4 separate regions of the Homo sapiens genome follow, and all the other regions are linked to region 1. Evidence: fine-mapped expression QTL. A gene starts in region 1. Each other region holds a variant in brackets. All regions are shown on one strand. Distances are from middle to middle. Region 1 holds the start of PTGR2 (prostaglandin reductase 2). Region 2 overlaps ENTPD5 (ectonucleoside triphosphate diphosphohydrolase 5 (inactive)). Region 3 has its middle 17 kb from the start of VSX2. Region 4 overlaps ENTPD5 (ectonucleoside triphosphate diphosphohydrolase 5 (inactive)).

Region 1 (7,797 bases):
AACCAGCCTGACCAACATGGTGAAACCCTGTCTCTACTAAACATACAAAAATCAGCCAGGCATGGTGGTGCACGCCTGTAATCCCAGCTACTCAGAGACTGAGGCAGGAGAATTGCTTGAACTCAAGAGGTGGAGGTTGCGGTGAGCCGAGATCACGCCACTGTACTCCAGTCTGGGTGACAGAGTGAGACCCTGTCTCAATAAATAAATAATAAAAATAAAGTAATTGCACTATAACGTTCTGATGACTATGACATCACCAGGCAAGAGGAATTTTTCAATTCCATTATAATGTTATGGGAGGCTCATCGTCTGTCATTGTCTGAACCGTCATTATATGGCAAATGACTATAACCCAGCCATCACAGATTTAAACATAAACACTATGCCATTATTACACCTAATAGTAGTACTGGCAATTCCTTATCATCATCTAATACCTAGTGCATATTCAAATTTCCTGACGTTTCAGGATGTTCAAAGATATCTTTTTACAGTTGGTTTCAAAAATGTTTCAAAGATGTCTTTTTACAGTTGGTTCATTAAAATCAGGATTCAAGGTCCACATACTACAGTTTGAGTCTCCCTTCCATTTATTTCATGCCCTTGATTTGTTTCTTCATTACTTTGCTTGTAGAATGTTCTTTGATTGCTTCCTCATGGTGTCATTTACCATCACAAGGTAAATGACTAGCTTTTAAAGAAAGAAGGAAATGTTTCTTCTATCTCCTCCCCTTATCCATGACTGCTAGTTACATCTAGAGGCTTGATTACTTCAGGTTCAATTTTTCAGGCAAGAATCTTTAAGGGTGGTGCCACATCCATTCATCACACCAAGAGGTCCATAATGTCATGTAGGGCTACATATGTTTTAAAAAGGAAACTTTCTACAGAATCACCATATGTGTCAATTATATAAGGATTAAAAAGCCAAAGTTTTCCAAATTAAGTGGGTCTAAAAGTCCTTAAGTAGTAATAGAACCATAATGGCTAAATTTTCAAAGCAGTCTTTCCAAATGAAATATCATATTTGCCCTCTAATTACTGTCAATGGTATGCTTTATTTGTTTAACATATTAATATGTATATTATAGATTTGTCCAAACACTGCTTATCAGCATGAAAAATATACTATTAAAGTTCTCTCACTCTGCATTAAATTAGAAACTTTTCAAGTGTCAAATACTACAATTAATATAGGATAATTGTGTGATATCCCTCAATAGTACCAAAAAAACACACATTTCAAATATAGATAACTTGGCTGGGCACGGTGGCTCACACCTGTAATCCTAGCACTTTGGGAGGCTGAGGCAGGTGGATCACTTGAGGTCAGGAGTTTGAGACCAGCCTGGCCAACATGGTGAAACTCTGCCCTACTAAAAATACAAAAATTAACCAGGCGTGGTGGCGGGTGCCTGTAATCCCAGCTACTCCGGAGGCTGAGGCAGGAGAATCACTTGAACCTGGGAAGCGGAGGTTGCAGTGAGCCGAAACTGATCCATTGCACTCAAGCCTGGGGGACAAGAGCGAAACTTTGTCTCAAAAAAATAAATAAATAATAAAAATAAATAAAATATAGATACCTAGATTTAGTCATAAAATTAACAGCTAAAATAAGACACATCAAGTTCCAAGATCTGAAAGAAGGGTAGATTGTTAAATTCATCCCAAGTAGGGGAAAAAAACTCAGCAAATCCTATTTGCCTGGGATACTATTCCTACTTGGTGCTAATATTCCAAAATAATAACAGACGAATTTGCTCCGATGTGATGATAGAGTGTGTTGAGTGTTTACCTTGCAGCCTGGTAAAAGGGAAAGGTCATTTAAGTAGGAAGAACAGAGTACTTCTCCTAGTTCTAACCAGGTGGGAACTTGGAAAAAGTCCCTTCTCTCAACCTGTTTCCTTAATATTCCTAAATGCCAGGAACTGAGCACAGACTCATTCACTAGCCTGTTTAAACCACCTCCCCCACCCTCACCCCAAAAAAACTGTGAGGTTGGTAATATCATCCTCTCAATTTTATAGATGAGAAAAGGGGCCGGGTATGGTGGCTCAGGCCTGTAATCCCAGCACTTTGGGAAGCTGAGGTGGGCAGATCACTTGAGGTCAGGAGTTTGAGACCAGCTCCGACAAAACGGCGAAACCCCACCTCTACTAAAAATACAAAAATCAGCCCGGCGTGGTGGCGGGCGCCTGTAATCCCAGCTACTCTGGAGGCTGAGGCTGGGGAATCGCTTTAAACCGGGAGGTGGAGGTTGCAGTGAGCCGAGATCACGCCATTGCACTCCAGCATGGGCGACAAGAGCGAAACTCCATCTCAAAAAAAAAGAAAAAAGAGAAGAAAAAAGAGGTACAGAAAGAGAATAATTCGCCCAGAGTCGCCCAACTTGTAATAACGCTAGAACCCATACTCCAACACGGCACCTGCTATTTCCATCACATGAGCTTCCTAATACCTTTTAATACCCTTATTTCGTGCGATTATTCTGCCACTAGCAACCCTGTTGACCACGCCTTGTTATAAAACGTATCTTTCTGGGCCCAGAGCCGTGGCTCACACCTGTAATTCCAGCACTTTGGGAGGCTGAGGTGGGAGGCTCACTTGAGGCCAGGAATTCGAGACCAGTCTGGCCAACATGGGAAAACCCCGCTCTACTAAAAATACAAAAATTAAGCGTGGTGGTGGGCGCCTATAGTCCCAGCTACACAGGAGGCTGAAGCTGGAGAACTGCCTGAACCCAGGAGACTGAGGCTGCAGTGAGCCGAGATCCAGCCAGGACACTCCAGCCTGGGCAACAGAGCGAGACTTTGTCTCAAAAAACAAACAAACAAACCACGTGTCTTTCTGGATCTCTCTGCCAGTCTTCTCCTCCCCTTCCGGTTTTCTGGTCTCCCCCTTCCCCTCCCGAAGTCTTGCATGTGGAGATTCCTATCTTGCTCTTCCCTTTCTCAGTGACCTCCCTGAGCCCTGTGGCTCCTCCTACCAACCACTTTATATGGAAATTAATAATAATTTGCGTCTCTAGCCCAGAATTTCAAACTAACTGCCCAGCTCGTCAGCGCTAAGAGGATAAGGACTCGTCTGCTTTGTTCAATGATGTGAATCCAGGCCGGGCGCGATGGCTCACGCCTGTAATCCCAGCACTCTGAGAGGCCGAGGCAGGCAGATCACGAGGTCAGGAGATCAAGACCATCCTGGCTAACACGGTGAAATCTCGTCTCTACCAAAAATACAAAAAATTATCCGGGCGCAGTAGTAATCCCAGCTACTCGGGAGGCTGAGGCAGGAGAATCGCTTGAACCCGAGAGATGGAGGCTGCAGTGAGCCGAGATCGCGCCACTGCACTCCAACCTGGGCGACAGACAGAGCGAGACTCCGTCACACACACAAAAAAATGTGAGTCCAATCCCCTATGCCCGGCGCATGGTACGTGCTCAACAAATCTGTGTTAAATGAAAGTTTCAGAGGCACCTCAAACACAATTACGTCAAAACCTCAGGTTGCTTTCCCCCAGTAATTCAAAAAAAACCCCAAAACCTGCTTCTGTTTCTCGAGCATTCCCTATCTCAGTGTTGCGGGCAATAACGCCAGTGTCCCCGGTAGCTCCGGGAGGACGCCTAGAAGTCACCCTGGTTGAGAGTCTTCTTCCTCACCGCTGGGGCCCGAAGCAGCTTCGGGAGCCACAGTCGCGGGAGCCGCTCGCGCGTCACTGACCCTGTGGAGCCCGGGTGAACGAAATCTCGCGTGATTTGCCGGAAAGAGGCTGTACTGCACGACCCCAGCTCGCCCCCAGGCCTCGGCCCTCTGACCGCAGTACGCAGGCGCGCGACTAGGCCCGGCTCCGCGCCCCCTCCCCTCCCAGGGGCGGGGTTTGGAAGCTTAGGGATTGGAAGTTTAGGATTCCTGGGCGCCCCACGTTTCCGGGAGAAGCAAGGGAAATGCGGAACGTCAGGGGAGAGTTACTAGTCTGGGCAAAGTGCATTAATAACTTAACTGAGATTGGTTCCTTGTGGCCGCCCCTACTGCCTTGACCCAAAGAGCAAATCTTGCAGCCTTGACCAGTGAGTTCACATTTAGCAGTCCGTGAAGAAGTTTTATTAGTTTTGTGGATTTCTCCCTGAACCTCGATTGGGAAATTATAGTGAGACAGGGACCGTCAAGCCTACTCCTTGTTTTATAGATGGGGAAACTGAGTCTCGGAGAGCTGATGTGATTGGACCACCTACCTTTCAGCTGGTTAGGGGCAGTGCTGGGATAAAACCCCTCTCTCCGGACCCTAATCCAGGGCCCCTTTGCGCCTCTTTTATTTCACGAAGAATACCAAATTCCTCCAAGATTACCAGTGTGGGCTGATTTCTCAATTTCATTCATCGTTAGTCGTCTCCTTTTGTGCTGGACTGGGTTGAGAGAAGTGTATACCTAGGACAGCTTCGGATCCCCAGGGACTTCAAACCCTAAGAAAGATCATCTGAATTAGGCAGGTATAAGAATTGCTTGTATTCATGTGGGAGCTAATAGCTCAGCACAAGTCATGCATGGAGTAGCTGAAAGATGACTAGGTTGGTGAGCAAGGGAATAGTGATCAAACAGGTTGGAGTTCCTGGTAGCTTTATGTCTGAATATTTTTGCTTCTTTGGGAAAGCTTCAGGAAGGACTAGGAGAATTACACTACTTTGCAAACATTTTCAGACAGGAGCTAATCTCTTTTATCTGTCATGGACAGGTAGACAGACCTTCAATGCCTTTTGTAATGACTTAAACCAAATGATGAAAAATAAAATGCTCAAATAGACAAAAAGTAGTAGTATAAAATAAAGGTAATCTAGAACTTGATTTAAAAGAAACACTTTCAAAATAGAAAAGAAGCCCTGCAATATTAAATTAGTTTTGGGGCTGGACGCAGTGGCTCACGCCTGTAATCTCAGACCTTTGGGAGGCAGAGGCAGGTGGATTGCTTGAGTCAGGAGTTCGAGACCAGCCTGGGCAACGTGGTGAAACCGCATTTCTTCAAAAAATAAAAAATAAAATGAAATTAGCTAGGTGTGGTGGTGCTTGCTGGTAGTCTCTCAGCTGCTCAGTAGGCTGCAGCGAGCCTTGATCACACCACTGCACTCCAGCCTGGGTGACAGACTGATACCTTGTCTCAAAAATTTTAAATATATGTATGTGTATTAATTAGTTTTAGCTCTCTTGATTCTAGGGTCTGTGAACTCCTTGTAACAAGTGTGATTTTTCTCGCCAAAATGAGTTCCCAAAAATTCAAGAGATGAGTAGAGGATTTATAGGTACATTTCTATCCAGTTTATCCTCTTCTTCTAAATTTTCTCTAACACCAAGGATTACTATCATTTACATAATGCGTAGTTTGAGTTGGATAATGCCTTATATGATTTTTTGCCTACATGATTTAATTTTCAAAACAGCCCTATTATTATTATTACCATTTTACGAATGAGGAAACCGAAGTTAAGCTAGTTAAGTTCTAAGTCAGGTTAAGTAACTAATAAGTAAAGGAGCAAGTTATCCTGCCTGAGTCCAAGCACCTGACCCTTTGTTATATTTGCCATAAATCTGGAATTCCCTACTCCTCCCTCTTTGCAGAACTTTGTACTGCCTCCTTCTCATCGTTCAAGCAATTCCTGAGAATCATTTTCTTTTTTTTCTTTTTTCTTTTCTTTTTTTTTTTTTTTTTTTTTGAGACGGAGTCTCTCTCTGTCGCCCAGGCTGGAGTGCAGTGGCACGATCTCGGCCTACTGCAACCTCTGCCTCCCGGGTTCAAGCAATTGAGCCTACTGAGTAGCTGGAACTACAGGTGCATGCCACCACACCCAGCTAATTTTTGTATTTTTAGTAGAAATGGGGTTTCATCATGTCGGCCAGGCTGGTCTCAAACTCCTGACCTCAGGTGATCCACCTGCCTTGGCCTCCCAAAGTGCTGGGATTAAAGGCATGAGCCACCACGCCCAGCCCTGAGAATCATTTTCTAGACTTCACTAGAAGGAAGTGTCAATTCTTCTCATCTCCATCTTATCAAAAAAAAATACATAGTATATATTGTTTCATTCAAGCATGATAAATATAGGCCAGGTGCAGTGGCTCACACTCATAATTCCAGCACTTAGGGAGGCGAGACAGGAGGATCACTTGAGGCCAGAAGTTTCAGACCAGCCTGGGCAACATAGGAGACCCCTATCTCTACAAAAAACAAACAACAACCAAAAAAAAAAACAAAAAGAAAAAAAATAGCCAGGTGTGGTGGCACACACCTGCAGTCCCAGCAGCTACTCATGAGGCTGAGGCAGGAGGATCGCTTAAACCCAGGAATTCCAAGTTGCAGCTAGCTATGATCTCATCACTACATTCCACCCTAGGTGCCAGAGTAAGACTTTGTCTCAAAAAAAGAAAAAAAAAAAAAAAAAAAGCCAGGCACTGTGGCTCAAACCTGTAATCCCAGAACTTTGGTAGGCCAAGAGGTAGGAAGATCGATTGAGCCCAGGAGTTCAACACCAGCCTAGGCAACATGGCAAAACCCACCTCTACAAAAAATTTTAAAAATTAGCCTGGTGTGATGTGTGTGCCTGTTGTCTCAGCTGCTTGACAGACTGAGGTGTGAGGATCACTTGAGCCCAGGAGGGCGAGGCTGCAGTGAGCTGTGTTTGCACCACTGCACTCCAGCCTGGGCAACAGAATGAGATTCTGTCTCTTAAAAAAAAAAATGCATAATAAATATAAATACTTGGCCGAGCGCAGTGACTCACGCCTGTAATCCCAGCACTTTGGGAGGCTGACGTGGGCGGATCACAAGGTCAGGAGATCAAGACCATCCTGGGTAACACGGTGAAACCCCGTCTCTACTAAAAATACAAAAAAATTAGCTGAGCGTGGTGGGGGCGCCTATAGTCCCAGCTACTCAGGAGGCTGAGGCAGGAGAATGGCATGAACCCGGGATGCAGAGCTTGCAGTGAGCAGAGATTGCACCACTGCACTCCAGCCTGGGCGACAGAGCAAGACTCCATCTCAGAAATAAATAAATAAATAAAATAAATATAAATACTTAATCTAATATGTTTGTATACTCATTCATTAAATTATTTTTTAGTTTTTTCATTCATTAAATTATTTTTAAATGAAAATAACCTCGTATGATAGCAAATTACTCAGGAGAAATCATTCAAGTTTGACCAACCTGCATGGTATATGACACTTAGTGCAACATCAAAGATTATTTGATGCTAAATAAAACATTTTTCCATGGAGGTGATAATTGTTCATAATGACACAAATTCAAACCCAAACATACATCCTAAAGAGATAACAGAACAAAGTAAGAGATAAAAACCACACCTGGCTGGGCTCGGTGGCTCATGCCTGTAATCCCAGCACTTTGGGAGGCTGAGGCAGGCGGATCACATGAGGTCAGGAGTTCGAGACCAGCCTGGCCAACATGGTGAAACCCTGTCTCCACTAAAAATACAAAATACAAAAATACAAATACAAATACAAAAAATTAGCCGGGCATGGTAGCGAGCGCCTATAAACCCAGCTACTCAGGAGGCTGAGGCAAAAGAATGGCTTGAACCTGGGAGGCAGAGGTTGCAGTGAGCCCAGATCACGTCACTATACTCCAGCCTGGGTGACAGAGCAAGACTCTGTCTCAAAAAAAAAAAAAAAAAAAAAAAAAAAAAAAAAATGCTGTAACCGAATCCTGTGAAACTCAAGCTTAAATAAATGCTTTTTCAGAAAAATTGAGCATTTAGAAAAAGGTCATATTTGTGCCTATTACAAGGTGGG
Region 2 (7,797 bases), 120 kb before region 1:
AAGAGCACTTGAGGTGCTTTGTCGGGGTGATTACCCACCTCTTTTCTAGTCACTCGAACAAAAGGGTGGAAATGACTTAGAGTCTTTTGGAGGTGAGAGATGACCAAAACAACTATATGAGGTCTTTTTTTTTTTAACATGTTTATTGAGGTATAATTGGCATACAATAAGTGCACATTTAAAGTATACAATTTAAGTTTTGTCATGTATACACCCATGAATCCATCAGCACATTGAAGATAATAAACATATTCACCACAAAAAGTTTCCTCCTGTCTCTTTATAACTTTTCTTCTTATCACAAAAGCAGTGTTTTTGCCTAACTGTGAAAGTATATGTACCTGATCTGTCATGGCCTGAGAGAGATGAATTAATTTCCTATTATTGTGGGGGTTTTGTTGTTGTTGTTGTTTTGGTTTTTTGTTTGTTTGTTTGTTTTTTGAGACAGAGTCTCACTCTGTTACCCAGGCTGGAGTGCAATGGCATGATCTAGGCTCACTGCAACCTCTGCCTCCCGGGTTCAACCGATTCTCCTGCCCCAGTCTCCTGAGTAGCTGGGATTACAGGTGCCTGCCACCACACCCGGCTAATTTTTTTTTTAATAGAGACGAGGTTTCACCATGTTGGTCAGGCTGGTCTTGAACTCCTGACCTCGTTATCTGCCTTCCTCGGCCTCCCAAAGTGCTGGGATTACAGGCATGAGCCACCACACCCGGCCTATTGTGTTTTATGGGTCTGTTTTTTCCATTGTGGTTAAATATACATAACATGGAATAGATTGTAAATAAGTAAATTAGGTTGCATAGATTACATTATGTACATGTGTATATAATGAATGAATGAATGAATTTCCTTATGCTTCCTTGAAGGCGTTTTGATATCAGATAATCTTCTGTTTTATTTCAGATTATGAAAAGGGGGGTATTTTAAAAGTTGAAGATTTTGAAAGAAAAGCCAGGGAAGGTAAGTGTCAGGGGAAGCCCTTGAAGGTAAGCCTGTGAGACTGCCTGCCTACTCTAGTGACCTAAAGTGACCTAAAGCACCTCAGTCAGCTCAGAAGGCCTATCAGAAGGCTAGTTTCCTTTCTGAGTCTTCCAGTCTTTGCTAAAAGTTAAAAGCATTGGGTGGTAGCCAGGCATGGTGGCACGCATCTGTAGTCCCAGCTACTCAGGGCGGGAGGATTGCTTGAGGCCAGAAATTCAAGGTTATAGTGCACTATAATCACACCTGTGAACAGTCACTGCATTGCAGCTTAGGCAACATAGTGAGACCTCTGTCTCTAAAAAAATAAATTTTTTTTCAGCTTTATGCAGCATAGAATTATGGGCAAGAATATGGGAATACAAGAGGTTTTAGGAGGCCGGGCACGGTGGCTCACGCCTGTAATCCCAGCATTTTGGGAGGCCAAGGTGGGCGGATCACCTGAGGTCAGGAGTTCAAGACAGCCTGGCCAACATGGTGAAACCCCATCTCTACTAAAAATACAAAAATTAGCCAAGGAAGGTGGCAGGCGCCTGTAATCCCAGCTACTCGGGAGGCTGAGGTAGGAGAATCGCTTGAACCTGGGAGGCAGAGGTTGTAGTGAGCCAAGGTTGTGCCACTGCACTCCAGCCTGAGCAACAGAGTGAGACTCCACCTCAAAAAAAAAAAAACAAAGAGGCTTTAGGGCTTTAGGGAAATGGTGAAGACCTTTTTTTTCCTTCTACATTTCTTGCTTTCTTTTTTAAATTGAAATAGTGTTATCAGTGTTAATGAAACACTAAGCATCAAAAGACATGGTAAATAGCCACAGAGGCTTCCTTGAGAGGATCAAAACTACCAAGAGAGCTAGGCACAGTGGTTCGACCTGTAGTCTCAGCTACTTGGGAGGCTGAGGCAGGAGGATCGTGTGAACCCAGGAGCTTGAGGCTGCAGGGAGCTGTGATCATGCCACTGCACTCCACCCTGGGTGACAGCATGAGACCTTGTCTCTAAAAAAAAAAATTAATAAAAAGTTTTTAAAAATTAAAAAATAAAATACAAATGATCTTATCGAGTAGCCCACAGTAGGGTTAAATGATATTTCCCTGTCTTCTGGGCCTCACCATTAATAATAGATAAGGGATTTAGAACTAAGCCCCCACAATAGGTCATAGAAACTTAGCAAATAAACTAGAGCCCATGTAAATGTGAATAGATAATCATACCAGAGATGTGCAAGTTCTTCAGAAGCTGCGGTCTTACAGAGGCAGTCAGTGCAGTCTAGTCTCTGAGATGCCTAAGCATTAACCAAAGGGAGACTTCTGCTTTGCTTATTCTTCTTCTCCCCCTACCTTTTTTTTTTGAGACAGAGTCTTGCTCTGTCACCCAGGCTGGAGTGCAGTGGTGAGATCTCGGCTCACTGCAACCTCTGCCTTCCAGGTTCAAGCGATTCTCCTGCCTCAGCCTCCCGAGTAGCTGGGATTACAGCGGTACACCACCACGCCCTGCTAATTTTTGTATTTTTAGTAGAGATGGGGTTTCACCACGTTGGCCAGGCTGATCTCAAACTCCTGACCTCAGGTGATCCACCCGCCTCAGCCTCCCAAAGTGCTAGGATTACAGGCGTGAGCCACCGCGCCTGGCCCCTATTCCACTTCTTTCTAAGAGAAAATCCTACACCTCTCAGTTAGTTGCAAACTTGAGCTCCACTGTTTACTCTCTCTTTCAGTGTGTGATAACTTGGAAAACTTCACCTCAGGCAGTCCTTTCCTGTGCATGGATCTCAGCTACATCACAGCCCTGTTAAAGGATGGCTTTGGCTTTGCAGACAGCACAGTCTTACAGGTAAGAGACAGGACACCAGAGTCTCATAACAGCCCTCTTTTGTGGGGGTTGAGAAGGAGTAAGAGCTTGTTCAGTAATCAGAGTAGCTAGAAGTGAAATTATGAGGTATTTTTGTTTGGGCTATGGACAAGGTACTGTGCTGGGCACCATGAATGTGGGAAATTATCTCAATGCAATGGTAGCCTCCGAGTGTATTACCAGGCAAGCTATCGCACAGGTCACAGAACAGAAAGACTAGCAGCCCAAATTAAGATGCCAAGTCACATGGTTTATTTATTTATTTATTTATTTATTATTATTTTTTTGAGATGGAGTCTCGCTCTTGTTTCCTGGGCTGGAGTGCAATGGCATGATCTCAGCTCACTGCAACCTTCGCCTCCTGGGTTCAAGCGATTCTTCTGCCTCAGCCTCCCAAGTAGCTGGGATTACAGGCATGCGCCACCACTCCTGGCTAATTTTTTTGTATTTTTATTGGAGATGGGGTTTCACTATGTTGGCCAGGCTGGTCTCGAACTCCTGAGAACTCCTGACCTCAGGTGATCCGCCCACCTCGAACTCCCAAGTGCTGGGATTACAGGCGTGAGCCACTGCACCCGGCCCACATGGTTTATTAAATCAGTTTAGAACTCAGGGTGAGAAGCAAGGGGAAAGAGTTGGAGAGGTGAACACAGAAGACACGGTGCAAGCAGGATGCAAGTGCCACACTCTCTGAATCTTGGGTTCCATTTGTCCTAGGTTTATATGTCCTGCCTGTCTCTGCTGCTAATAGAGTGGTTACACATACTAGAGCTGAAGTTCGGTCATGGGAGCACAAAGACAAAAGGTGCCTGAGGCCACCACACAAACTTGCCCTATTTGGAGAGGCCCCAGGGGCACACACACATGGCCATTTGCATTAGCTCAGTCATTAGCCTATAAGATGGGTTTTCTTTGGCAGAGGACATGAGAGACCAAGAGGGTGTCACCAGTGAGTGGCTTATTTAAGGCCTCATGAACACTGAATGCCTCATGCATATGTAATGTGTCATATATATTTCATGTGTGCCTCGTATATTTAATGCCTCTTGAATCTTAGGTCTTTCTTTGTCCTCCTGTCTCTCTCCATCTGTTTCAGTACCTGCAGGCTCTACTTTATCTGTAGTAAGTTATTTATCCCCAGTTTTGGGCACAGTGTCTAGGCTCTATTACATCAGGTCAACACAGAACAATCAACTGGTTTATAGACTTTTTTGGTGGTGGTAGCATCTTTATCCAACAAAAACTTATGTAGAATATCAGTAATACAGCCGGGCCTGATGGCTCACGCCTGTAATCCTAACACTTTGGGAGGCTGAGGCGGGCGGATCACCTGAGGTCAGGAGTTCGAGACCAGCCTAGCCAACATGGTGAAACCCCGTCTCTACTAAAAATACAAAAATTAGCCGGGCGTGGTGGCAGGTGCCTGTAATCCCAGCTACTTGGGAGGCTGAGGCAGGAGAATCACTTGAACCTGGGAGGCAGAGGTTCCAATGAGGAGAGATCATACCATTGCACTCCAGCCTTGGCAACAAAGAGCGAAACTCCGTCTCAAAAAAAAAAAAAAA[AG/G]AGTATCAGTAATATAAAACTGGTAAAAGTGGAACTATTCTGGTTGAAGCAGAGATTGGGGGCCTGAAACTCCTCTATCATTTGGCCTCCCTTTTTCCTTCGAAGCATTTCTAAGAAACCCCTAAAATTCTGAAGAAAACAAATTGATAAACCGATAAACACTAATCTAATCCTCTTCTTATATAGTTGAGGAATTTGGGTCTAAAGTTTTGCCCAAGGTCACTAAGCTAATTGAGATATGTACTGGCTTAGAATGTCTTAAGTTCCCTGTTTGATTATTTTTTTCTTTTCTTTTTCTTTTGAGACCAAGTTTCGCTCTTGTTGCCCAGGCTGGAGTGCAATGGTGCAATCTCAGCTCACTGCAACCTCCACCTCCCGGGTTCAACTGATTCTCCTGCCTCAGCCTCCGAAGTAGCTGGGATTACAGGCATGCGCCACCATGCCTGGCTAATTTTGTATTTTTAGTAGACACGGGGTTTCACCATGTTGGCCAGGCTATTCTCAAACTTCTGATCTCAGGTGATCCACCCGCCTCAGCCTCCCAAAGTGCTAGAATTATAGGCATGAGCCACCACTCCTGGCCTTTTTTGTTCGTTTCTTTTTTTTTCTTTTTTTTTTTTTTTTTTGAGACAGGGTCTTGCTCTGTCACCCATGCTGGAGTGCAGTGGCATGATCTCAGTTCACTGCAACCTCTGCCTCCCGGGTTCAAGTGACCCTCCCACCTCAGCCCTCTGAGTAGCTGGGATTACAGGTGTGTGCCACCACTCTTGTCTAATTTTTTTGTAGAGACGGGGTTTTGCCATGTTGCCCAGGCTGGTCTTGAACTCCTGGCCTCAAGCAATCCACCTGCCTTGGCCTCCCAAAGTGCCAGGAGTACAGGCATGAGCCACTGCGCCTGGCCCCATGTTTGGTTATTATTAGTGCTTAGGAAGAGGCACTTGCTTACATAGTAGGAGTTGAGAAGCTTGGTTTGTTCTTTCCTACCCCTAGATCTATTCTCACCTCCTGACCATGCTCTTTCTGCCACATCTATTATCATTACAAGTTGCCTTATCTGAAATTAGTGAATCAGAAAATAAAGCAGGGGATACTTTGTGTAGTTTCAACGTTAGGGAAAGTTCAGAATACTGTCTGTCTAAACTATCTCTCTAGAAGGCCTGATGGGCCACAACCTGGGCCAGAAGCATTCAGTTCAGATATGAGAATGGTGGGTGTAGGGGCAATGGCCAATGGGCCATGGCCGGAAGGAAATTGTTACAGAGTAGTGGGAAGCCTGCAAAGACTGGCTTCTGTCCGTTTTGCCTTGGTTTGCCCATGTGGATATTCTTTGCCAATATTTTCTGCCCAAGAGCTGTGCTTGCTAGAGTTGGAAACTGGATGAAAAGGTGAAGACTTTTTTTCTTCTCAACAGCTCACAAAGAAAGTGAACAACATAGAGACGGGCTGGGCCTTGGGGGCCACCTTTCACCTGTTGCAGTCTCTGGGCATCTCCCATTGAGGCCACGTACTTCCTTGGAGACCTGCATTTGCCAACACCTTTTTAAGGGGAGGAGAGAGCACTTAGTTTCTGAACTAGTCTGGGGACATCCTGGACTTGAGCCTAGAGATTTAGGTTTAATTAATTTTACACATCTAATGTGAACTGCTGCCTAACCACTCAAGAGTACACAGCTGGCACCAGAGCATCACAGAGAGCCCTGTGAGCCAAAAAGTATAGTTTTGGAACTTAACCTTGGAGTGAGAGCCCAGGGACAGGTCCCTGGAAACCAAAGAAAAATCGCATTTCAACCCTTTGAGTGCCTCATTCCACTGAATATTTAAATTTTCCTCTTAAATGGTAAACTGACTTATTGCAATCCCAAGACCCATCAATATCAGTATTTTTTTCCTCCCTATACAGTGCCCTGCCCACCCTTATCTGCACCCACCTCCCCTGAAAAAGAGAGAAAAAAAAAAACCTGGTTTTGCTTTCCATGTATAATTCAACAACGCAAAATGGGACCATGTCAGAATCTGTATGATCCTATTCTGTGTTAGCTCCAATCAGCCAGCTGAGAGCCATCCTAAATATTAATAGGATGAGAGAGTAACTCCTAACTGTGCATAAATTACAGCCTTAAGAAAGAAGGCCACCCGGTCTCTGGGGACATGTTTTGGGAGGGTGTGGCTGCCTCATATAGCCTACCTTTGCTTTAATCAGCATTTTATCAGTCAACTCTGGGATTAATGAACATATCCGACTTTATGGGTATGTGTATATTCAGTGCCAGTACCACCTCCCAGGCTAATGTGTTAACAGTGTTTTCTATGATTCTAAACTTGTTTTCTTTGTATTTCTAAGAAATACAACTAGGCCCTAACTTTTGGTCTGTGGTCAGAGGTCAGTGTCTGTGCTATTCCAGGATCTATTATTTCAGTTTGCCCTTTTATTCTCTCCGTTTGTAACAGTACCTTCCTGTCCTGGTCCCTGATCACTTTAGCTAATATCCTTTGAATTATTTATCTAGTTCAGAGTTTCCAATACCGTTCCTGACAAAACCCCACTTGGATTTGGTTGGCTCTCTCAGCCCACATCAGTACAGTGGACCAACATTTCCAGGGAGAACCATATTTAATGTCCCTCATGCTCTCTTTTTGAATCCAAGTGCTCAGAGCTCTTGACTGTGAATTATTTACCCCAAATTCATTATCTTGCACTTTTTTTTGAGATGGAGTCTTGCTCTGTTGCTCAGGCTAGAGTGGAGTGGCGCAATCTCAGCTCACTGCAACCTCCGCCCCCAGGTTCAAGCGATTCTTGTTCTCAGCCTCCTGAAGAGCTGGGATTACAGGTGCCCACCACCATTCCTGGCTAATTTTTGTATTTGTAGTAGAGATGGGGTTTCACCATGTTGGCCAGGCTGGTTTCCAACTCCTGATCTCAATTGATCCACCCGCTTCCCAAAGTGCTGGGATTACAGGCATGAGACACCGCGCCTGGCCTTATCTTGCACTTTCAACATAATCATCCCTGCTTCTCATCTGCCCTGCAGTGCTCTTGGACCTGGAAGATCTCCCTGTGGTCTGGCCCCTTTGCCTTGGTTGTTAACCTCCAGCTTCTTTGCAGGAGTGTATTTCCCCAAAACTTGTGGCTTTCACAGTAGACTCCGTTTCCATCCTCTCTCTCACAAAGGATGTTAAGTATGCCTGGCCCTCACACAGTCCATGGGAAACCTTATTTTTAACATTACTCCATTGAGTCAATAAATATTTACCATCTGCTGTGTGCAAGTTACTAGGCAAATTTCTGTATCCTTGTCCCTAAAATTCTTGTCTTTAAATTCATTGTGGAATTTCTTTAGACTTCACACTGACTTTTATTACTAAGGTCACCTTTATACCAACTGCCTTCCTCAAAATGCTTATAATGAA
Region 3 (7,797 bases), 370 kb before region 1:
CAGGGACATGATGGCGATGAAGCATGCAGACAGGCCCCCGCGCACTGTGGGTGCTGGGTCTTTCAGCCTTTCATTCTCCCCAATCTCCTCCAGGCCAAGATCACCCACAAGGGCCGGGCGCAGTGGCTCACGCTTATAATCCCAGCACTTTGGGAGGCTGAGGCAGGTGGATCACCTGAGGTCAGGAATTTGAGACCAGCCTGGCCAATATGGTGAAACCCCGTTTTTACTAAAAATACAAAAAATTAGCCTGGTGTGGTGGCGCATGCCTGTAGTCCCAGCTACTCGGGAGGCTGATTCTCCTCCTCAGGAGGAGAATCGCTTGAACCCAGGAGTTGGAGGTTACAGTGAGCCGAGATCAAGCCATTGCACTCCAGCCTGGGTGACAGAGCAAAACTCGGTCTCCAAAAATAAAAAGATCACCCACAAGGCAGCGTGGTGTAGTGGTTAATGACTCTGGCTCTTAAATTACATGGTCCTGGGCTCATGTCCCCCATTTACCACCTGCTAGCCGGTGACCTGGGAACTTAGCTTTCACCATGCCTCAGTTTCCCCTTTTTAATATGGGCCATGCAGGGAAAACTTCCTAGAGGAGGCAGCAGTGGGGCTGGACTATGAAGCTAGAATGATCACTAGCCTGCAGCAGTGAGGCCCCAGCTCCTTTGCCTGTGACCATCTCCTCCCAACGCTTTTCCACCAAATCTCAGGCTTAGGACACCCCTCTGGAAAAATCCCACCCTGCCCACCATCTCCTCATGTTTTCTTTTTCTTTTCTTTTTTCTTTTCTTTTTTCTTTTCTTTTCTTTTTCTTTTCTTTCTTTCTTCCTTTCTTCCTTCCTTTTTTTTTTTTTTTTGATGTTTTGCTCTTGTCACCCTGGTTAGAGTCCAGTGATGCACTCTCGGCTCACTGCAACCTCCGCCTCCCGGGTTCAAGTGATTCTCCTACCTCAGCCTCCAAGTAGCTGCGATTACAGGCACGTGCCACCAGGCCCAGTTAATTTTTGTATTTTTAGTAGAGACAAGGCTTCACCATGTTGGCCAGGCTGGTCTTGAATTTCTGACCTCAGGTGATCTGCCTGCCTCGGCCTCCCAAAGTGTTGGGATTACAGGCGTGAGCCACTGCGCCTGGCCATCCTCGTGTTTTCTTTTAGCCATCCTGGGAAGAAGTTGGGAAGAAGGTCACCCACTCTCACACGGCCACAGCCCAATTTTCTCTTGAAAATCGCTACTAGAATCACCATTTGTCATAGTCCAAGGGTCGGGGACAGAGTCTGGGGGAATAATTTGACGAAGGTGGGCAGGAAACCCCCCTCCCTCCCGTCGAGCCCTGCTGGAGGGAAGGACTGTGGTAGGCGCAGAGGTGAGGAGGCCAACCGAATGCAGAAACCCAGCCAGGGAAAGGTTTAGCCCCACAATCCAATTCCACTTAATATCCCATAATAGAATGCTGTCAACATGAGTTTCCTGTTCAAGTGGATTTGTTAGGAAGGCTGGGGAGGTCAGAGGTGTATTCCGGCCCTCCTGGTGTGGGGACTCCAGTAGGGTGTGTGTGGTGGGGGTTACTTGGGCACAAGGGCCCCCTCCCCACCCTCTCCCCTCAGCAAGCCAAACAGGCTCTCAGGAAGGGGTTTGTCACACTTGTCTGTACCAAGACCTCATGAGTTTGTGATGGCTTGCAGAGGGTCCTGGAGCCTCCTGAGGGAGCGTGCATCTCCTTTGAGAAGCGTCCAGCCACTAAGGCAGAGAGCAGGATATTCATGTGAAGGGATTCAGACCTTGAGCAGAAGGTGGGGAGGGGTTCCCAGTTCGGGGGAAGGTACACAGGAGGAGCCACAGGGCCAAACTTGAGGCAACCTTGGGGGGCAAGGGGCCACTTAGGGAGAACCCTGAAGATCTGGGTTGGCCTCAGCCCCCATGAGTGACAACCCAGTGGGTGACCCCACGTAGTTACTCAAACTGGCTGCTGCCTGCTCCTTCTGCCCCCCTGGCTGGCCCATTGCTAGGCGTCCTTCCTCCCAGCTGACTAAGAATCCTTTTGGGGGAGACTTCTGTGAGAGCTTGTGATCGAGCGGTCCCCGTGGATCAGACACAGTGCTGGGCCTTCCATATGCTGCTGCCTCATCAAATTCTGTGGAGCCAGGCCAGGGAGCAGCAGCAGGGGTCAAGGCTGGGGAGAAGGGCTGTGTGAGCACAGGAGCCGTTATTATCCTCATTTTCCCCAAGTAATAGGGGCTCAGGGGTTTTAAGAAACAAAACTAGGGCCAGGCGTGGTCGCTTACACCTCTAGCCTCTAATCCCAGCACTCTAGGAGGCTGAGGCCAGTGGATCACTTGAGCCCAGGAGTTTGAGACTAGCCTGGGCAACATAGCAAGATCCCATCTCTACCAAAAAAAAAAAAAAATAGAAAGGCATGGTGGTGCACACCTGTAGTGCCAGCTACTCAGGAGGTTGAGGCAGGAAGATCACTTAAGCCCAGGAGTTTGAGGCTTCAGTGAGCTGTGATTGAGTCACTGCACTCCAACCTGGGCAACAGAGTGAGGCCCTGTCTCTAAAAAATATATTTTAAATAAATAAATAGAAACAAATCAAGACCTCACATAGTAGGGGAGGGCACTGGGACAAGCATGAAGTTCTTTCTGACCCCAAAGCTGGTGCAGGAGAGATGGGGAGATGAATGAAGACTCAGTGAGAGCCTTCAGAAACCCAGCCTGCGCCTGGTCTTGGAGAGCGGATGTTGGGTGCATTTTTCTGTAAGTATCCAGGAGGGTGTGGGGCAGAAGTTGCAAGGATGAGGTCAGGCCTTGGCTCCTCTGGGGCCTGCGGGTGGGTGAGACCAGGGGAGGGGGGAATGGGCCTGGGGCCGAGGAGGGCAGGGCTGGGCCTCCGGCTCTTTTGTGAGCTGTTTTAATTCGTGTAAATGAGGGTTTTTAATTTGTTATTCTGGGTTTTATTTCTATTACCATCTCATTTGCCTGTAAACCCTATTCTGCCCCTGCCTGGACCGAATTCCATTTGATGCATTAGGACTAATTCTCCTCCCAAAGGGTTAGATGTTTTCTCCCCACACAAAAGTCGCTTATTTTGGATAAAGAGACGATTAGATTTATCTTTAATATTTTAATGGCAGCTGGGATTAGTGGGCAAACAGCCCCGACTGGGGTTGTTCACGGCGGATTAAGTTCTGATCAACTCTCAGATGGGGAGCCCCCACCCCCACCCCACTCCACTTTCTGTTTTCCACAAAGTGCTTTTTATTATTTTTTGTTGAAAAAAAAATTCCCTTGTCTTTTGGAGCATCATAAATTCCATTTGCTGTTTTCTATTAAATCAAGTTGATTAAATTCGTTGTGACTCTTTGCACATAGATCTTTTTAATTTTAACGTCTCCAGCATAAAATCTTTAATGGTGCCATTTGAAATTGCTGCAATATACAGTACAGGCCCTGAGAAAACAGATGGAAATGAGGTTCTGCCAGGGATGGGGGAGGTCCTATCAGGAGGGGTACAGTTGGGAGAAGGCACAGACCTCCAGGTGAAGGCAGGGGACTGACTCTTCCTGAGGTCCAGAGAGCCCCACGTTCTCCATTCAGCTATTTTCTAGCTTCAGGGCTTTGGCTAGGAACTTGGCCCATGCTATGGAGGGCTTGCTATGTGCCTGGCACTGTGTATGCATCGCCAGTCATCCTTACAAGGAGGCTCAGAGAGAGGTCACTTGCTCAAGGTCACGTAGCAAGTCGGTGGCAGTGGTTGAGTCCAGATTGTCTTTGCCAATAAAGCCTCATCTCCCCTTTCATCAGTAAAATGGGGGTGATCGGTTCC[G/A]CCCTGGGTCACAGGTGCTTGGAAAGATTGGATGAGGTCCACAAACTGCTTTGGGAACAGTACAGAGCTGTGCTCTCCTGGGGGGATGGAGGAGTGGGGCTGACCCATTTGGGCCTCAGAGGCTCTGCTATCACTGGGTAGAGCTGCCTTTTGAGACCCTGGGAACCTTCACTAACTCCAGGGTCTCGGCTTCCCCCCGCCCCTCAGCTCTCCAGCTCTCCGGCCTCCGGCCTCAGGCTTTTTCTCCCCGTCTCTAATCCTGACCTCATCAAGTCCTGGGAAGAGGGTTGATCCACAGGAGCAAATCCCTCATTCAGAGGGGCAAAATCAGCTTAATTTGCAGCAATTTGAAGCAGGTCTTTGCCAGGATTTGAATATCAAATTATCCCACAGCCTGGGCTGGTCTGGGAGGCCTCCCCCGGCTGCAATATGGACCGATGTGCTCAGGCTTCACCAGGGAGATTGTCCTGGGAGTGACTGAAGCTGAGGCTGTGGAGATGGGAGTGAGTGTCAGAGGGTAGTGGGCAAGGTGGGGGTCACCAGTCAGCCCCCACTGCCAGAGGGCACTGCAGCAGTGACTGAGGGACAGATGGAGTTTGGGGTCAAAACCTCCTGTTCTTGAGACTCACCGGGGGCTCTTGTCAAATGTGCGGATTCCCAGGCCCTTCTACAAACATAAGAAATCAAGATTTTCTTGACTAAGAAAGTTTAGAAAAATCCGGTGCAGCTCAGTTAGCCAATCAACAAACACTTGCTGTGCACAATCTGTACTGCCTCTCATTTTGAGAGAATCAGCCTCCTCTGGTGCCCACCCTGTTCATTCCCAGCCTCTGGTACTGTGGACAATATTTCCTTGGCTGTCTGCTCCATGATGGCCCCTGAGGCCTGAGTCAGCGGCTGCAGAGAGCTCTTCAGCCTTCCCTTCCTGGTCTGCATGCCCAACTCCTCTGGCCACCCGGCCCTTTCATTCCTTTTCTGCAAGCTCAGGCCTAGCAGACATCCTCTTATGTCAGTCACACAGGCCTCGCTGCCCAGACCTGAGCCCCGGGGCTCAGACCCCTCTCATGGGCATGTCATGAGCTGTGAGCCTCTTCAGGAAGGCCCGAGGTTGGTGAAACATTCTGGTCCCGCCACAGTGTTGTGTCCCTGTGGGCCCTGCAGTGTAAAAGTAGCAGCCAGGGATGTTGGGATGGCTTTGCGCAGGCCCACTGTCCAGCCAGCACCATCAACAGAGATGAGAGGCTCTCGGTGTGACAAGCATTATAAGAGCCACAAGTGCTTCCATTTAATTCTCACAAAATCCTATGGAGTAGGTACTATTATTATATACACCCATTGTATAGATGAGGAAACTGAGGCACAGAGAAATTAGTAACATGCCCCACCCAGGTCATACAGCAATAAGAGGTGGACCTGGGATGCATACGCAGGCAGTCTGACTCCAAACTGCTCCTCTTAACCACTTTGTTCTGTCTCCATCTATCCACCTTTACCTAAAATTTTGTCCTTCTCTATATTCTCCACAGCAATGACTTGCCTTATTTTTAAAGGCATAATCACAGTGTGTTTGGGGAGCAAAGAAAGGAGCGCATAACCTACACTAGGGCAATCACAGAGGCTTTTTGGAGGTGGTGTCTTTATTTGTTCAATGATGTGGTAGAGCAACCACTGTGTGCCCAACACTGGTGATACAGACATGAAGAAGCCATGGAGCTCACAAACGGGGGCCTGAACACCCCATCGGCAGTGCTCAGTGCACTGATGGAGAAAACACAGGGCATCGTAGAAACACTGGGGACACCCCAAAGCCCAGGAGATCAGGGAAGACTTCCTGGAGGAGAGGCACTAGTCCCCTTCACTAGATCTAGTCATTAACCTGAGGTTCAGATGGCCCAGAGGTCCCACTGGGCACACTCACCCTTCTTTGTCTCAGCCAGTCCATCCTCCGTGGACCGTCTGGACCAACCAAGCTTGAGACCCTCTCTGACCACCTGTCCTAGACAGGTAGACCCCCTCAGGGGAAGTCTGTGTTCCCTACTGCTATGTGTTCTTAGAGGCGGGGCCTGAGCAGGAACGAAACTCCTGAACCCCAGATCCTATGCCTAGCAGGGTCTGGTGTAAGTCATTGGCTGCCTTGGGAAAGCCCAGTGGTTTGATTCAAGGATGACTAGAATTTAGAGCAAAAAGGGACCCCAGAAGCCACCCAAACCTGTTTTGAAGGAAGCCACAGGAGATGCCCACGCCCCACAGCTCAGAGATGCTGCAAATTCCAGCCTCCCAGTGCCCTATCTTCTCTCTGGGGTGGTCTAGCCCCACCTGGCACTCCCCCAGTCTTTGTCCCCGTGTCTGCCTTGCCTGATGGTGGCCAGGGGGCCTTTCCGGAATAACGATGGTATTGGCTCAGATTAAGGGCAACTAGCTGGCTCTTGGCTTTTCATTTTTATATAACAACTAATCTCCTTCTAATCAGCCATTATTAAATTATATTCCATTTTTAATTCATTCACAGATCACCGTTGGGACAGCTGGATGGATAATTGGAGAGAGATAATTTATGTAAATGAGGAGCAGCAGAAGGTGGGGGAGAGGGAGGCCCAGGGCGCCAAACGGAGCCCCCTCTGTGTCCAGGCTGGGGAGGGGGCAGTGGCCTGGCTCCTCCTGGAAACCCGCGCCTGGGGATGCTGGGAGGATTGGGGGCTGCCATGGGACCTCAGGGCTCCTGACCGGTGGTTCCTGGTGTGGCCCCTCAGCATCACCTTGAACACTTTTGGCAAATGGGAAGCTCACTACTTTGGGGGCGGAGTGGCTCTCAGACATCAGCTCCCCCTTTTAGAAGCAGATCCTGAGAGGCAGAATGCCCCAGAAAATTCTGGAGTCAGAGCTGTTTTTGATTCCAACTCCACCACTGTGTGCCGTTTCCTAACCTTAGTTCCCACGTCTGCAAAACGCAGGTAATGACAGTATCTACCTCATAGAGTGCTGTGAAGCTTAAGTGCCTGGCACCTAAGGAAGAGACCAAGACAAGTACATGGTGGCTCTTATCACCCTTATAGGACAGTGTGTATCTTTCAGAATCTTCCTCTCTAACATCTGCCTTCTGGCCATGGAGCTTCCTTCTGGTAACACACAAAAGAAATCCACTTCCTTTGCATATCTGAAGACAGCTCTGTACCACTGATAATAACACTCCGGAGGCTTGTGTCTCATTGTGTCCTCCGTGTCTCATAGTGTCTCATTGTATCCTCGGAACGACTATAGAAATTGGGGGCGATTGCGTCCATTTTACAGATGAATATACTGTGGACCCAAGCTCTCTCCTGCCAATTCCTTCAACAAAAACGATAACAAGCCCCAGAAGCCTGCTTAGAAAGGAACACGAGGCTCAGAAAACCTGGATCCCAGCCGGAGGCTATTTTGGGAAGGTGCCTTGGGGACTGGCAGGCAGGGTCAGGGATGGCAGGGAAGGTGGGTGAGAGAGGTTGGACCTCCACCCTTCTTGGCTGTCCCTTTGGGGCCCCAAGAATCAGGCACGATGGGCATTCATGGGCACAGGTGGTCTGACAGAGCTTGAGGGGCAAGGTCTGCCTGTGCCTGGGGCTGGCATGGGCTGGCAGGGAGGCCCTTGGACCATTCCCAGAGGGAGACAGGGGATTAAGGGGGGTTAGGGAGGTGGTCCCAGAGGGTCCATGCAGAGTAATGGGATTAGCTCTTGGGCAGTGAGTGAAAGTTATTATCGTGTGGGGCCTCTGGCCTCCCACCCAAGGCTGCAGCTGTCACCCATCCTGGGAGGCACCAACAGCCCCCTCCACCCCCACCTTGGGGCAGGCTGGCACCTCTTCTCCCCACAGGCTTTTCTGCTGTGGTCATCTGCCTAGGGGCTGGCCGCCTAGCTTTAGCCTCCTGTCGGTCCTTGGCAGACTGGGCCACCCACACAGTATGCTCTAGACTTGCTCTGTGCCTCGGTTTCCCCTTGAACAG
Region 4 (7,797 bases), 150 kb before region 1:
GTTTTTTATTTATTTTTTTGAAATGGAGTCCTGCTCTGTCTCCCAGGCTGGAGTGCAGTGGCATGATCTCAGCTTACCGCAACCTCTGCCTCCTGGGTTCTAGCGATCCTCCTACCTCAGCCTCCCAAGTAGCTGGGATTACAGGCGTGCACCACACACCCAGCTAATTTTTGTATTTTTAGTAGAGATGGGGATTCACCATGTTGGCCAGACTGGTCTTGAACTCCTGACCTCAGGTGATCCACTCCCCTCAGCCTCCCGAAGTGCTGGGATTACAGGCGTGAGCCACCGCACCTGGCCAGTTGTTCATTTTTAAGAGTTAATAGCAGCCGATGTGATGGCTCACACCTGTAATCCTAGCATGTTGAGAGGCCAAGGTGGAGGATTGCTTGAGGCCAGGAGTTTGAGAGCAATCTGACAAACATAGTGAAACCCTGCCTATATTTCTTTTCTTTTTTTTTGAGACCGAGTCTTGCTCTCTCACCCAGGCAGGCATGAGCCACCACGCCTGGTTTATTTCTTTTTTTCTTTTTTTCTTTTTTTCTTTTTTTTTTTTTTTTGAGACTGAGTCTCACCCTATCGCCCAGGCTGGAGTGCAATGGTGCGATCTCAGCTCACTGCAACCTCCATCTCCCGGGTTCAAGCAATTCTCCTGCCTCAGCCTCCCGAGTAGCTGGGATTACAGGCATGTCCCATCATGCCCAGCTAACCTGGCTTATTTCTATATATTATTTTTTTCTAAGAATAAACAAATGAACAAAAACAGTTAATATCATTGGAATAACATGCAGGTCCTAAAATAAGAAGTATGTAAGATGTGTTTATTGAAATATATATATGGTATACTGGAAAAAAAACCCCACAAAATATTACACAAATACTGGTTACAGCTTACAGTAGCCAGCCTCCAAGATGCCCCCCAGTGATGCTCACCTCCTAATATTCATGCCTTTGTGTAGTCCCCTTTTACAGTTCGTCAGGGTTGGTCTGTATGAGCATTAGAATATAGGGATATGATAGTGTATGACTTCCAAAACAAAGTCATAAAAGACATTACTGCTTCTGCCCTGCTCTTCTTGGATTGACTGCTCTGGAGGAAGCCAGCCACTGGGTTATAAAGACATTCAAGCAGCCCTATGGAGGATCTACACGGGGAGCTACTGAGACTTCCTGCCCACAGCTGGCATCAACTTGCCAACCATTGAGTGAGCCATCTTGGAGGTGGGTCTTCCAGGCCTAGTCAAGCCTTCAGATTGACTGCAGCCCCAGCCTACATCTTGACTGCAATCTCATGAGAGCCTCAGAGCCAAAACTGTCTAATTAAACCACTCTCAGAGTCCCAAACCACAGAAATAATGAGATAGGCCGGGCGCAATGGCTCACACCTGTAATCTCAGCACTTTGGGAGGCCAACGCAGGTGGATCACCTGAGGTCAGGAGTTTGAGCCTGGCCAATATGGCGAAACCCCGTCTCTACTAGAAATACAAAAATTAGCCGGGTGTGGTGGGGGGTGCCTGTAGTCCCAGCTACTTCGGAGGCTGTGACAGGAGAATCACTTGAACCCAGGAGGCAGAGGTTGCAGTGAGCCAAGATCACGCCACTGCACTGCAACCTGGGCAATAGAGGGAGACTCTGTCTCAAAAAAATAAAAAAGGGATGAGATAATAAATATTTTTATTGCTTAATACATGTATTTATTTACTTAATTAATTTATTTTTTGAGACAGGGTCTTGCTCTGTCACCCATGCTGGAGTGCAGTGGCATGATTCTAGCTCACTGCAGCTTCGAACTCCTGGGCTTAAGTGATCCTTCTGCCTCAGCCTCCCAAGTAGCTGGGACTGCAAGTGTGCACTGCCATGCCTGGCTAATTTTTTCATTAAAAAAAAATTTTTTTTAATAGGGTTTTGCTGTGTTGCCCAGGCTGGTCTCAAACTCCTGGGCTCCAGTGATCCTCCTGCCTTAGCCTCCCAAGTGTTGGGATTTACAGGCATGAGGCACCATGCCCAGCCAATTTTTTTTTTCTTTTTTTCTTTTTCTTTTTTTTTGATTCTTCAGCTAAGACAGCAGAAGAGATGATTTATCGTATGGTTGTTATACTCGGCCACAAGTAAACACAGAAATAGTCCAGAATGTCCCAGGTCCAGGGCAGAGGACCAACATGGGCAGTTTTGGTTATGAGCAAGGTGGGTCTCAGAGGTGATCAGCGATCAGAGGGCGGTGAAGTTCTGGATCCATTGAGACAAGCTCTACACAATAGCATGCAGTCCCACAACTTGTACCAGCATCCCCAGCATCTGGCATTCCATGTTTCTGCTCCTGTGTGGCCTCCACGGTGCAACAAGCTAGCGGTTTACTTGGACCTCTGCCTCATCTTTCTTCTTTTGTGCTTCAGACTGCACATTCGCTTTTTCCTCCACTTAGCTCTCATGATGCAGAGGTTTCCAAGAAAATGGCGCTAAGGCTGAGAGAAACCCTAGCCCATTTCTATTGTCAGTTTTTATTGAATTCCACCTTGGACGCTCTTCTAGGTTCTTGGGTTACACCAGTAAACAAAAAGATTTCTGCTCTTGAGGAGCTTATATTCTATCAGAGGAACACAGACAATAAATATCAGTAAGCTTTCCAGTATGTTAGAATGTGATAAGTGGTGTGGAAAAAAGAAAAGTGGATCAGAGTAAGGGGAGTTGAGAAAGCAGGTAGAGGTGGGAGCATGTGAAGGTGAGAGGTTATAGTATTAAGTAGATCTCAATAAGAAAGTGATTTTTAAACAAGTATTTGAAGGAGTTGCAGGAATTCATCAAGTGGATATATAGGAAAAGAATTTCTAGGCAGTGGGGACAGCTTAGAGCGAAGGCCCTAAGGCAGGGGCATGAGTGAATAAGCGCAGAGGTCAGTGTTG[G/C]GGGAGAGTAAGGTGAAAACTATTAGTAGATGGGGTCAGAGATGTAGTGGGGATGGAAGCAGAAGGCTATTTTCAGGACCTTGTTTCTCTGAAATGGGGAGCCAGTGCTGGATTTTGCATAAAACAGAGACATACTCTAATTTATATTAAAGGATGACTTTGGTTGTTTGTTAAAAGGAGACAAACTCCAGGGGAGTGAGGATAAAAGCAGGAAGATCTGTTAGGACAATATTAGCAAATCACATGAAAGATGATAGTGGCTTGGGCGAAGGTGGTAGCAATGGAAGTGGTCAGAAATGGTCGGATTCTGGAAATGTATTCAACAGCAGGAAATTAAGATCTTCAAAATCTCTTGATTAGCTGGGCACAGTGGCTCAACCCTGTTATCCCAGCTATTCAGGAGGCTGAGGCTAGAGGATTGCATGAGGCCAGGAGTTCAAGACCAGCCTGGGTAACATAGTGAGACTCCATCTCTACATAAATAAATAAATAAGCTCTTGATTTTATGTAAGAAGGTCAGACTGCTGTAAGACTTTCACATCCTGATGGAAGTCTCACTTTCCAGCCTCATCTCAGACCATTCTCTGCTCTACACTCGCCTCCCCACTCCCATATCTGTCTTTTCCAAGAGCCCTGTTAGATAATCCTTCTTGGGTGGCCTACTAGTTAAGACTGTGGCTCTGGAATTAAACCATCTGGGTTTGATTTCTGGCTCATTTCATTTAACTACGATGTGGTCTTAAGATACTTAGTTTCTCTAAGCTCAGTTTTCTCATTTATAAAATGGGAATCTTAATAATAGCACCTAACTCACAGAGCAGTAATGTGAGATTAAATGAGCTAATCTATGTAGAATACTTAACATCATGCTTGGCATCTACTAAGATCTCCGTAAATATTGGTTACTATTTTTTTAAAATCTCAGATTATGTTTCTTTGACCACAATCTTTATCCTCTGCATTAAATGCTAACCCTCTTCTTCTATATCCTCTTTCACTAGTTTTCTACTTTTTGTTTCTCAAATTCATATAAAAAATTCTTGAGGACATTGGCTTTTAATTATTATTATTTGAGACAGGGTCTCACTCTGTCGCATAGGCTGGAGTACAGTGGTGCCGTGCAATCACAGTTCACCTCAGCCTCCACTTCTCAGGCTCAAATGATCCTCATACCTCAGCCTCCTGAATAGTTGAGACTACAGGTGTGTACCACCATGCCTGGCTTTTTTTTTTTTTTTTTTTTTTTTTTTTTTTTTTTGAGATGAGGTCTTGCTCTCTCGCCAGGCTGGAGTGTAGTGGCATGATCTCGGCTCACTGCAACCTCCGCCTCCCAGGTTCAAGCGATTCTCCTGCCTCAGCCTCCCGAGTAGCTCGGACTACAGGTGCCCGCCACCATGCCTGGCTAATTTTTTTCTTTTTTTTTGGGATGGAGTCTTGCTCTGTTGCCCAGGCTGGAGTGCAGTGGTGCAATCTCGGCTCACTGCAAGCTCGGCCTCCCAGGTTCACGTCATTCTCCTGCCTAACCCTCCCGAGTAGCTGGGACTATAGGCACCCGCCATCACACCCAGCTAATTTTTTGTATTTTTAGTAGAGACGGGATTTCACCGTGTTAACCAGGATGGTCTCGATCTCTTGACCTCGTGATCCGCTTGCCTTGGCCTCCCAAAGTGCTGGGATTACAGGCATGAGCCACTGCGCCCAGACACACCCTGCTAATTTTTTAATATTTTGTAGAGATAGCATTTCACTATGTTGCCCAGGCTAGTCTCAAACTCTTGGGGTCAAGCAATCCTCCCACTTTGGCCTCCCAAAGTGCTAGGATTACAGGCATGAGTCATCATACCTGGCCTCGCTATTTTTAATTTTTATACGGATAGGGTCTCACTGTGTTGTCCAAGCTGGACTTGCACTCCTTGGCTGAAGTGACCCTCTTTCCTCAGCCTCCTGAGTACCTGGGACTATGGTCACGTGCCACTCCATATGGCTCTTGAGGAAATTTTTAAATGAAATCAAACGATACTTTTCCTATCATCTTTTTCTAATCTCTCTGGTCTTTATACACATCTGGTCTCTATTATTTCTGTAGTTATTTCTGTCCATTTTTCATGATTGCTTACATGTCATTTCATTTTTTTTGTTGTTGTTTTGAGACAGGTTCTTGCTCTGTTGCCCAGGCTGGAGTGCAGTGGCATGATCTCGGCTCCCTGCAGCCTCGCCTCCCAGGTTCAAGCAATTCTCCCACCTCAGCCTCCTGAGTAGCTGGGATTACAGGCACACCACCACGCCTGGACAATTTTTGTATTTTTAGTAGAGATGGGGTTTCACCATATTGGCCAGGCTGGTCCTGAACTCTTGACCTCAGGTGATCCACCCTCCTCGGCCTCCCAAAGTGTTGGGATTACAGGCGTGAGCCACTGTGCCCAGCCATTTCTTTTATATATGCTTATATATATATTTTTTAAATTGAGACGGGGTTCAGTCTTGTCACCCAGGCTGGAGTACAGTGGTGCGATCTCAACTCACAGCAACCTCCACCTCCCAGGGGGCTCAAGCAATCCTCCCACCTCAGCCTCCCAAATAGCTGGGACTACAGGTGCATTCCACCATGCCTGACTAGTTTTTGTATTTTTGGTGGAGATGAGGTTTCATCATGTTGCCCAGGCTGGTCTCGAACTCCTGAGCTCAAGCAATCTGCCTGCCTTGGCCTCCCAAAGTGCTAGGATTACAGACGTGAGCCACTGTGCCTGGTCTCAAATGTCTTTTCTTGATGCGTTTCCAAATCCTCTAGGGAGTTAGTCCTGTGTTTTTGTTCCTTTACCTTTTTTTTTTTTTTTTTTGAGATGGAGTCTCGCTCTGTCGCCCAGGCTGGAGTGCAGTGACGCGACCTCGGCTAACTGCAACCTCCGCCCCCTGGGTTCAAGTGATTCTCCTGCCTCAGACCCCTGAATAGCTGGGATTACAGGTGCATGCCACCATGCCTGGCTAATTTTTAAATTTTTGGTAGAGATGGGGTTTCATCATGTTGGTCAGGCTGGTCTGGAACTCCTGACCTCATGATCCGCCCGCCTTGGCCTCCCCAAGTGCTGGGATTACAGGTGTAAGCTACTGCGCCCGGCCCTTTACCTTTTTTTTTGAGACGGAGTCTCGCCCTGTTGCCCAGTCTAGAGTGCAGTGGCTTGATCTTGGCTCACTGCAACCTCCGCCTGCCAGGTTCAAGCAATTCTCCTGCCTCACCCTCCTGAGTAGCTGGGATTACAGGCACGCGCCACTGCGCCTGGCTAATTTTTGTATATTTAGTAGAGACGGTTTTACCATGTTGGTCAGTCTGGTCTCAAACTCCTGACCTCATGATCCGCCCACCTTGGCCTCCCAAAGTGCTGGGATTACAGGAGTGAGCCACCGTGCCCGGCCTACCTTTGTTTTTTTTGGGGGGGTGGGGGGCAGAGTCTTACTCTGTCACCCAGGCTGGGGTGCAATCCTGTGATCTTGGCTCACTGCAACCTCTGCGTCCTGAGTTCAAGCAATTCTCGTTCCTCAGTCTCCTGAGTAGTTGGGATTACAGGCGCATGCCACCACACCTGGCTAATTTTTGTATTTTTAGTAGATATGGGGTTTCACCACGTTGGCCAGGCTGGTCACGAACTCCTAACTTGAGGTAATCCACCCACTTTGGCCTCCCAAAGTGCTGGGATTACAGGCGTGAGCTACTGCGCCTAGCTTCTTTACCATTTTTATGCTTAGTTTAAAAAGTTACGGTTATTTTTATATATGTCTGCCACCTCTGCCAGACTCAGCATCTTGAATAAAAAGATCTGTTTTCCTCACCTTTACTTTTCTGGCACCTAGCAGTTAGTAGGCATCAGTAAGCATTAGTAGAATTAAGCAATTGAGTGGTCCTGACAAGGCTCCTGACTGCAGTCCTTACATGTAACTACCAGATTCGTATTTGGATACTCCCTAGTTCAATATCTTCAGTGGCTTCCTATCACCTGCAGAGTAAAGTCCAAACTCCTTAGCTGAGTATTTGGTGTCCTCTACTATGTGACCTCAATCTATCTCTTCAACTTTATTTTCTACTATAGTTGGTCAAACTGATCCATTCACTGTTCCTCAGGGGCCCCCATCCCTTTTCCACATCCGTGTCTTGATTCATGGTTTTATTCCTGAAAAGCACTCCTTGCCTGTCCTAATTCATTTCCCTCCTCAGGACCCTCCTCAGATACGACCTTTTTCACAGAGCCTTCTCCATCATCCCAGCTTTGAAGTTTCAGAGCATAGTAACTGTGCTGCTTGACACATTTTCACTTTATAGAGGTAATTTATGGACATGTATTTTTTTTTTCCAACTTAGTATAGTTTCTTAGGGTTTCTTAAAGTTTCTAAGATGATTTATCTTTGTGTGCTGTACTTGTAAGCAGCAGTAAGAAATTGCTAATTTCTGGAATGGCTGTCACTGTCGGTTACTACAGGTTGAATGAAGGGGACAAACGCAGAAATGAAGACAAAGACAAAAGGATCTGTTTCGAAAGAAGGGGTCAGGGAGCTCCTTGCTTCTAGTGAGCAAAGGCAGCCCTGAGCTTCTACCGCCCTTCGTATTTATTAGATAGAAAGAGCAGGGAGGGAGAGGTAACAGTTGGTCAGCTGCTAGATTTATCACAGGTACACATAATTGCTTTCTTTGTACAACAGGCTTCAGATGCTCCTATAGATAATTGCAAGGAACACTGCGCTGGGGGTGTGACTGCCCTCAGCACCCCTTCTGGTGGCAGACGCAGTTTGTCAGTTTTCCAACATCCTGCTTTCATGAGAACAGTTTTCTGTTTGCTCATATAACCTCCAATGGCATACTGAGTTGGTCACGACCCTCATTCTTTCTGCCTGTAACACATGGCCAAA

What was found. PIP is the estimated chance that this variant, and not a neighbour inherited with it, causes the effect.
Region 2: its variant is the best candidate, but not a certain one, in a credible set for the expression of PTGR2 in subcutaneous fat (TwinsUK, PIP 0.71).
Region 3: its variant is the best candidate, but not a certain one, in a credible set for the expression of PTGR2 in lung (GTEx, PIP 0.59).
Region 4: its variant is the best candidate, but not a certain one, in a credible set for the expression of PTGR2 in tibial nerve (GTEx, PIP 0.57).

The regions. Positions count from the first base shown.
Region 1 is chr14:73,847,867-73,855,663 of GRCh38, reverse strand. It overlaps PTGR2 (prostaglandin reductase 2), which reads right to left and starts at 3,833. Exons shown (of 10, transcript NM_001146154.2): 1 at 3,721-3,833. RefSeq lists an enhancer at 4,038-4,087 and a silencer at 3,697-4,099.
Region 2 is chr14:73,965,018-73,972,814 of GRCh38, reverse strand. ENTPD5 (ectonucleoside triphosphate diphosphohydrolase 5 (inactive)) reads left to right here. Exons shown (of 16, transcript NM_001249.5): 14 at 907-963; 15 at 2,690-2,805; 16 at 5,801-7,797. The coding sequence ends at 5,887. Among named protein-coding and RNA genes, the nearest start is that of COQ6, 19 kb to the right of the region's middle. The variant AG/G (reference allele first, on the strand shown) is at 4,389.
Region 3 is chr14:74,218,208-74,226,004 of GRCh38, reverse strand. No RefSeq gene overlaps it. Among named protein-coding and RNA genes, the nearest start is that of VSX2, 17 kb to the left of the region's middle. The variant G/A (reference allele first, on the strand shown) is at 3,820.
Region 4 is chr14:73,998,029-74,005,825 of GRCh38, reverse strand. All of the region lies in intron 3 of ENTPD5 (ectonucleoside triphosphate diphosphohydrolase 5 (inactive)), which reads left to right. It also overlaps the pseudogene RPL41P4. Among named protein-coding and RNA genes, the nearest start is that of ENTPD5, 17 kb to the left of the region's middle. The variant G/C (reference allele first, on the strand shown) is at 2,902.